Regions from separate parts of the Homo sapiens genome. Here regions 2 and 3 are each linked to region 1. Evidence: fine-mapped expression QTL. A gene starts in region 1. Each other region holds a variant in brackets. All regions are shown on one strand. Distances are between the middles of the regions.

Evidence for each region.
Region 2: its variant is fine-mapped to the expression of TACC3 in whole blood (INTERVAL, PIP 0.96).
Region 3: its variant is fine-mapped to the expression of TACC3 in whole blood (TOPMed, PIP above 0.99).

What each region holds. Positions count from the first base shown.
Region 1 is chr4:1,719,816-1,722,564 of GRCh38, forward strand. It overlaps TACC3 (transforming acidic coiled-coil containing protein 3), which reads left to right and starts at 1,706. Exons shown (of 16, transcript NM_006342.3): 1 at 1,706-1,828. It overlaps TMEM129 (transmembrane protein 129, E3 ubiquitin ligase), which reads right to left and starts at 1,508. Exons shown (of 4, transcript NM_001127266.2): 1 at 818-1,508. The coding sequence starts at 1,022. RefSeq lists enhancers at 359-458, 1,541-2,536 and silencers at 1,049-1,098, 1,109-1,918.
Region 2 is chr4:1,751,505-1,754,253 of GRCh38, forward strand. No RefSeq gene overlaps it. Among named protein-coding and RNA genes, the nearest start is that of TACC3, 31 kb to the left of the region's middle. RefSeq lists an enhancer at 1,812-2,419. The variant C/G (reference allele first, on the strand shown) is at 1,284.
Region 3 is chr4:1,316,814-1,319,562 of GRCh38, forward strand. The region is part of intron 3 of MAEA (macrophage erythroblast attacher, E3 ubiquitin ligase); the gene reads left to right. Among named protein-coding and RNA genes, the nearest start is that of MAEA, 28 kb to the left of the region's middle. RefSeq lists an enhancer at 631-1,131. The variant G/A (reference allele first, on the strand shown) is at 1,583.

The DNA.
Region 1 (2,749 bases):
CAGGCCTGGGCGCCTCCACCCGACACCTGCCTCCAGTTCTTCTGGGCCCAGGCAGCTGCATCCTCAAACCAGGATGTGGAGGGTCACCCCTCTTGTATCCCCAGAGTGGCAAACCTGGCCAGCCACTGGCCATCTGTCCTCCCAGGGCTGCGTCTGCCCCCGTGTCCTCCAGAGGTACCCCCTTGAAATCCCCCTCCAGCCACTGCACACCCCACCTCCCACCTGTCCGTCATCCAATCAGCTGAGAGAGGGACCTTCCAGAGCCCCAGCTAGCACCTGGGGCCCAGCCCAGCACCCCCCTGGACAACTCTGAGCGTCCCACCTGCACTGCACAGAGGCCCTCCCCAGCCTCTGCCCCTGTGGCGCCCCCAAACTGGAACTGCCTCCAAATCCGCCTGTTCTCTCCACACCCACCTTCCAAGGCCTAGTGCAGTGCCACCCTCCACACAGCCCCTCCGACCCCTTCCGTTGGACTCAATCAACAGTTGCCTTCTCCTGGCCACTGCCCCCAACCACGACAAGCAAGGGCTGCTTGGCCTTGCAACCCCCAGGCACGTGACGGTTCAGGACTTGGTGGGCCGGAGCATCCCTTGCCCAAGGTTCTGAACTTGGGTTCCCGTCACCTGCAAGTCAGTGCCGGCGGCGCCCCTAAGCGCGCTCAGCCCACGCCGCGGTCCCTCTGGATGAGGACCGGCGCCTCTCCCCAGCTGCGCCCAGGCGCTTTCGGGGCCTCGGGGAGCTGGCGGAGGCCTCCTCCTGACCTCCCAGCAAGCCCTGCGCAGGAGAGGATGCGGCCGGCCGGCCCGAGCAGCCTCACCGAGCGGCAGCAGCGAGTGGCACAACAGCGTGGCGGCCGTGCGGCGCAAGTGGAAGGGCACGAAGGCGGCGTCCTCGCTGCCCAGCCAGCCCGACAGCAGGTTCTGCACCGTGAGCCCCGCCGCGTGGAACTCGTTGGGCGTGAACACGAAGCACACGGCGAACACCAGATAGGCGAGAGTGAAGGTCACCTCGGGGCTGTCCATCGCGCAGCCGCCGGGAAGCTGTCGAGCTAGGCCCCCGCCCCGGCGCGCGGACGAGGCCGCAGCGCCCAGTCCCGGACCTGTCGGTTGCGGCGGCCGCCGCCCGGCCGCCCGCGGGGCACTCTAGGACATGGAGTCCCGCCGCCCGGCCGCCCGCGGGGCACTCTAGGACATGGAGTCCCGCCGCCCGGCCGCCCGCGGGGCACTCTAGGACATGGAGTCCCGCCGCCCGGCCGCCCGCGGGGCACTCTAGGGCATGGAGTCCCGCCGCTCGGCCGCTCGCGGGGCGCTCTGGGAGATGCAGTCCCCGTGCGGGTGCGGCCTCTCTTCTCGGCCGGCCCTGGAGGCGGCACCGCACCTGTGCATTGAGCACAGGTGGGGAAACTTAGGCCTGAGCGAGGCCCTGGCCATGAAGCCCCGCCCAGTAGCGTCAGTTGCGGAACTCGAAATTCATGGGGCGACTGCGAGCCCGGGGTCTCAGCTTCAGACACCCTGGCGTGCCCTCCACTCCGGAAACGGAACCGTCGGCGCCCGAGCGGGGGGTGGGGGGGGAGGGAGGGCGGAGCCGGCGAGGCACAGCTTCCCATTGGACGCCCGCCCTCCTGCGGTCCTGCCCCCGGCCGCGCGCTGATTGGCCGCGCGAAGGCAACCGTCGGCGTTTGAAACTCCGGCGCGCCGGCGGCCATCAAGGGCTAGAAGCGCGACGGCGGTAGCAGCTAGGCTTGGCCCCCGGCGTGGAGCAGACGCGGACCCCTCCTTCCTGGCGGCGGCGGCGCGGGCTCAGAGCCCGGCAACGGGCGGGCGGGCAGGTAGGAGAGCGGCTACACGGCGCGGGGAGGCTGGGGTCCTGGGGGCGCGAGGCCGTCCCGCCCCGCCCCGCCCTCGGCCCTCGCCCTCCCGCCCCGGCCGCCGCTTTCCCCGGGAAGCGTCCCCCACGGCTCCTCCTGGGGCCGCCGCCAGAACCTGTACCGCGCCCTGTCATGGGACCCGGCCCTAGACCGACCGCCGGGCTGGGCCCCCTGGATGGTGGCCAGGGGCGGCTAGAGCTGGGCCAAGACCGACGGCGGAGCGGGCGCCCCGAGGTGCTTTGCTCTCCTCGACCCTCTCCTGTCTCTCGGTCGCCCACCTTGGCTCTTTGTTGGCTCCCAGCACGCGGACCCTCCTGTTGTTCTTTGGTCCCTTCCGGCCTCCGTCCTGGGGCCAACTCCATCTAGGCCGCCTGCGGCGGACACCTGGGCCCCTACCGCTTCCCCGCACCTGCTGCGCCGCTCCACCTTCCCCCCGCACCGCATCCCTCTTGTGCACCAGAGTAGCACCAAAGCACCAGCCTGGGGCCGGTCCCTTCTCTGCCCAGAGCCCCTCCCGGGCCTCCATAGTCAGTAAAGGCCCCTCCTGACTAAGGCTGGGTCTGCTGCTCTCCCGAGCTCCTCCAGGCCGCCAGAAGGCTTCCTCCGAGTCACTTTCTCCCTGAGTTCGAGGCTTGCGGGTCCCCCAGCGATCCAGCACCCCTTCCCCTGCCCTGTACCCAGTTATTCAGGGCGAAAACCTAAGCGTCGTCCGTAAGTCCCATATGTGCCAGTGGCCAGGCCCGGGTCTGGTCTGGCATCTACTCCTTGGGCTCCAGAAGCCTGTGGTTTCCCTGCTTCCCTTCTGCTCTTAACCTCCCCACCCACACACAGCACCACAGTGGGCTTCTCAAGCTGCAGCACCGACCTGCCGGGGCTGCCCCC
Region 2 (2,749 bases), 32 kb after region 1:
CTTTACCCCCAGGGTTCACCCACAACCCCCACCCCAGATGGACAGGGGCCGCCTGGTGGGTGGTCCTGCACCAGGCCAGGCAGCCCGGGACACTGAGTGGGCCCAGGGTGGGGGTACCTTGCACACACACCGCGCTGGGGAGGCCTCGAGGAATCAGAAACACACGGCCGAGCAGCCCAGTGCCACGCCACCAGTCCACAGGCGCTCACCCGCAGCCACCACCAGAGCAGACCCAGACAGCAGGGACCTGCCGGGCGCTCCTCCCTCCACCCGCACCATCCCTGCTGGGGACGTCCATCTGTGTCCCCACCACCCTGCCAGGCTCACTGGCTATCCAGGCCCGGAGGCTCCTGCCTGTGCACCCAGCTCTCCAGGTTAAGGTGCGCCTGCCAAGCAGGGAGCTGCTCCCAGGAGAGTGTCCCCTCCCCAGCCCGAACCTGTGGCCTGGAGGAGCTTGGCCTCCCTGAGGTCCACACCCGCAGAGCTCAGGGGCCTTTGTCACCCCCAATGCTGGTGATGAGGTGCAGGCCCCGGGACAAGGCCATGCTGCTCACTCGCCTCTGTGTGGTCAGCACTCTGGACAACCCAGCATGGGTGGGGATGGAGGCGGGCCCTCAGCATTGAGGGACTTCCTGGAGGTGGGGGCTCCTGAGCTGGGCCCCAGCGTGGGAGGGAGCATGGCCAGGCTGGGCCCTCTCCTAGAGGAGGCTGGGAATCCTGGTCAGTGCCCGACCTGCCCCACCTCTCAGCTGTCGAGAGGGTCCACAGTGTTCCCCTGGGAGGCCACACCTGGCCGGAGGGCAGCCCAAGCTGGGCGGATTCAGGCTGGATCTCCCCCGCCCCAACGTGCCCACGGCACAGCTCATTTCCCTCTGCGCCAGGTGCTGGCTCCTCTGCCAGGAACATGAGCTCATTTCACCCTCTCAGGCAGGGTAGGGCAAGGCAGACCCCAACCCACAGGCGACGGGCCTTTCTGCCCCGCCCCAGGTAATCCACTCAGCTGGGGAACGGTGACCTCCCCTCAGCCCAGAGGGGCTCTGATTCGGGAGCCCAGGACAGCGGGCAGGGTCCTGCCGGGCAGCCGGATGGGCACGGTGCAGGCACAGGCTCAGGGGCAGCACAGGACGCCTGCCCCGCCCACCAGCCAGGGGTCAGGCCTCTGGAGATCCCGGGGAGGGCGCCCTCCTCCACATAGGCCTGGGAAGAGGAGGGCGGGCGATGATGGTTGTTGTCGTTGACTCGCTTCTCCCACTTCTCCGAGCTCAGGCGGCAGAGGCCTGCCT[C/G]CTCACCAAGCAGGAAGCGCCAGGGGCTCTCCCCTCGGGCTGCCGGCCAGGCCTCCTCGGCATTTCTGGGAACCCCCTCCCCACACGCCCAGAAAGCAGGAAGGCACCTCTGCCCCGAGCCCAGGCTTGTCTGGTCCCAGGTGCCCCTCCTCTGGCTGGGGGCCGCTGGGTGTGGCTGAGCTGCAGGGGTGGGAGAAGGCTTCCTGGAGGAAGTGCCCGGGGCCTCGCGGGGCACCAGCCTGTGGGGACTTGGGGTGCTGGTGGTGAGGCCTCTTGGCAAAGGGGAGGAGGCAGAGGAGATGGGAACCAGGTGGGGGGCTCTGGGGTCCCAGCTGGGGGCAGCACCCCCTTCTCTCCTGCTGTCCCCTTGTCCATGGCCAGGTCCTGGCCTGTCTTCTCACTGAAGTCCCCAAGCCCCCAACCTGAAACCCAGGCCCCTGACTCCACCCGCGAGAGGAGACACTCTCCAGGCCAGCCACCACCCGATGGTGACAATCATAGACCAGTGACCTGGGGCTGCAGGAGGCCCCAGCCCTACCTCCAGCAAAGCCACAGGACCCGCACCCACTCCTGTGGAGACCTCAGAGGGAAGCGTGGCAGGGTCCCTGCCTGCTGGGGGCTGGGGGTGGGGGGTCTTAGAGGACTTCAGATCCCAGGAGCCCCTCCCTGGAAAAACCCACAGAGCAGTGCTGGCCCCACCTGGGAGCCCCGTCAAGCACTTCCTGTTCCCGGGCCCACGTGGAGGAGGGTGCCCTCCCAGGGATCTCCAGAAGCCGGAGACAGGCACCCTCCCCACTTTCCATCTGGGACCTGAAACTCCAGGGTCAGGGGCTCAGCATGTGGGCGGCAGCCCCTGGGCACTGGGACCCAGGTGGGTGCCCTGTCCCGGGACCCGAGTCAGAAGCAGCGAGTCTCCAGCCCGCGAGGGGGCCAGGTGTGGGGCGAGGGGCACCCGGGGGTGGCCTTGGACAGTGGCCTTTGGGGCCTGTGCTGTGGAGCATGCAATGGGGCTGGGGACTCTCAGCCCAGGGTGTTGGCACCAGACTGGCTTGGGGAAGTCATAGTGGGAGCCGCCACCGCCAGAGACCCAGGAAGTGGCCACTGGTCTCTGAGCCTCCACAGATAAGACTGGCCTGAGCCCAGCCGTGGCCACCCCCAGCCGTCACCGGGGCCATTGCCAGGTCAGGCATGCTGCCCCCAGCCCGACACCATGGGGAGTTGTGTGTCCCAGCCACCAGCTTGCTCCTCCCCGGCTGACTGCCCAGCCCCGTGCTCCTCCCCAGGGGGAGCCTGGCACCTGGAGTCCTCTGGACTTCAGGCACTGCTTCTGGCAGGTGGGAGGGGACAGCCAGTGAGGATCTGTCACCAGTCCTGAGGTGGGACAGGCAGCTGGGGAGAGAAAAGTGGCCATCCTGGGGGCATGTGGGGAGGAGGGCTGGCGGAGCCCTGAGCCTACCACCCGGCAC
Region 3 (2,749 bases), 400 kb before region 1:
ACTCACGCCCCCATGCAGCCATCTGCACGCCCTGCTGGCTTGCAGCCTCCCCCACACTCCTGTCACGCTCCTGCCCAGCTCCCCAGCCTTGCGGCACTCCAGACTCACCCCCAGGCCCACCCGGCCCCACACTCCAGACTCACCTGCAGGCCCACCACGGCCCCACACTCTAGACTCACCCCCAGGCCCACCCCGGCCCCCACACTCCAGACTCACCTGCAGGCCCACCCGGTCCCACACTCCAGACTCACCCCCAGGCCCACCCCGGCCCCCACACTCCACACTCACCTGCAGGCCCACCCGGTCCCACACTCCAGACTCACCCGCAGGCCCACCCCAGCCCCCACACTCCAGACTCACCTGCAGGCCCACCCCAGCCCCCACACTCCAGACTCACCCGCAGGCTCACCCCAGCCCCCACACTCCAGACTCACCCGCAGGCCCACCCCAGCCCCCACACTCCAGACTCACCTGCAGGCCCACCCGGCCCCACACTCCAGACTCACCCGCAGGCCCCACACTCTGGACTCATCTGCAGGCCCCACACTCCGGACTCATCTGCAGGCCCCACACTCCGGACTCACCCGCAGACCCACCTGGCCCCACCCTCTTGCTGGCTCTTGTCCTCGGCATTTGTCCCGCACCTCGTTCACCTTCTCTCAGATGCTGCCCTGGGTGGAGCGGCACCCTCCCACCCATGCCTTCTCCCCACTGCTGCACAGCCTCCCTGCTTGTGTGTGTGTGTGGTGTCCGTCCTGCCCTCCAGGAGGGGAGTGGCGAGCAGCTGCCCAGTGGGCAGGGTGAGCGAGTGAGTCCTCGTGTCCTGGAGGCCCTCATCTGCCCAGACCTGCACAGCACTGTTGCTCTCGGCACCGCTGGGGTATGGCGTCTCGGTTCACAAGCGTGAATGTGATGTGTCACAGCTGTGCCATGAGTTGATCTGCCAGATGGCAAAGTGCACTGATCCTCTGCGGTGACCGGGGCTGGTGCCCCTGGGTGCCCTGCAGTCTTGTTGAGTTTCCGAAGTCTCCAGGTCATGACTCGCAGCCACTCCAGTGTGCACCCAACATTCTCATCGCTGGACGGGGTCGTCTGTGATGCCTCTGCCGTGCTGCCCACTGGGCTGCTGTGGCCCCCATCTGGTGCCATTTTTCCTCCACCTGGGTGTCAGGGAAGGGCATTCTCACCTGCACCTGCCCAGGCTCATGTGACGGACAGTGGGCCAGCACATGTCCGCTCCGGTGCCCTGTCCCACATGCCTTTCCCACCCACCCGCCTCCCTGGCCCCGTGTGCCCGGCTTCCCCCAATGCACAGGCCCTCGCTCCGTGCTGCCCACATGTCCTGGCTGCCTGGGGCGGCCCCCCGTGTGTTCATAGATGACCTAGCCATCCTCTCCTAAACGCCCAGCACACTGTCCTTGGGACCCATGGGGTGTGACCAAGCAACCTGGCGGTGGCTGCTGAAGCATGAGCTGTGGGTGCCCCTGGCCCCAGGGAATGTGCGCTGTGTTGGGGGAGAGAGACGTGAAGTGAAAGAAGGGGGTCCTGTGGTGGGCACAGGCCACGCGTTCCACAGAAGTGC[G/A]TAGAGCAGGGTGGATATGGGAGTGCTGATGATTCTAAGGCCAGTTGGAGTAGGCCTCAGCAGGGTGAGACGGGCTACACTCAAGGTGTTGGGGTGCCCTGAGCATGTCTGTCCAAAAGAGGGCCTGGAGCTGCTGTGTGGAAGAAGGCGGGCGTGTGGAGCCCATGAGGACTGGGTTGCGGGGGAGGGGTTCTTTCTGCTGAGATGCTCCGGAGGGCGTTGAGCTGAGGAATCGCTTTTGACCACAGGTGACCATGGCACTAGGAAGCCCTGGGGAAGGTGCTGCTGTGGCCGAGGGGGAGCTGCCAGGTTGTGGAAATGTAAACCCCGGCTGCGCTGGTCAGACCTGGACTTCCTGTAGGGGGCGCCATGGAATTCCCACGTGGGACCCCAGTTTCCTACCTGTGCACCAAAATTCCTGTGCACCAAAATTGGAGACGTGACAAACTTAGGAAAATAACCTCATGCTCTGGATTGGAGCAAGGTCCCAGACAATACAGGACAGGAAGCTGCTGCCAAGGGAAGGCCACCCAGGAACAGGACAGGAAGCTGCTGCCCAGGGAAGGCCACACAGGAACAGGACAGGAAGCCTGCTGCCGAGGGAAGGCTGCCCAGGAGGGGCAGAACAGAGTCCTCAGTGTGGCTGGTGCTGTGCGCCTGCCTGTGCTGCCTTAGGCTGGACGCAGGGCTCTCAACCCGTAATCCTAGCACTCTGGGAGGCTGAGGCGAGCGGATCTGTTGAGCCCAGGAGTTTGAGACCAGCCTGGGCAGCAAAGTGAGAACCCTTCTCTACAAATTTTTTTTCAAATTAGCTGGGAGTGTTGGTGGGTGCCTGGGGTCCCAGCTACTCTGGAGGCTGCAGTGGGAGGATCACTTGAGCCCAGGAGGTGGAGGCTGCAGTGAGCCAAGATTGCACCACTGCACTCCAGCCTGGGCAACAGGACAACACCCTGTCTCAAAACAAACAAAAGTCAGCATGAGCATTTCGTGTGAGACAGAAAACCAGTTCACTTAGATGGTTTCTAGTTTCAGTTGACGTACGAGCCTGCTGCCAGCTGGCCTCACATCTTTCATGTGACTCTCACAACCGGAGACCCGGACATTGGAGAAACCCTCAGTAAGAGAGATCCAACTGGGTTCAGACCCCGAGGCTGTGTTGACGGGACA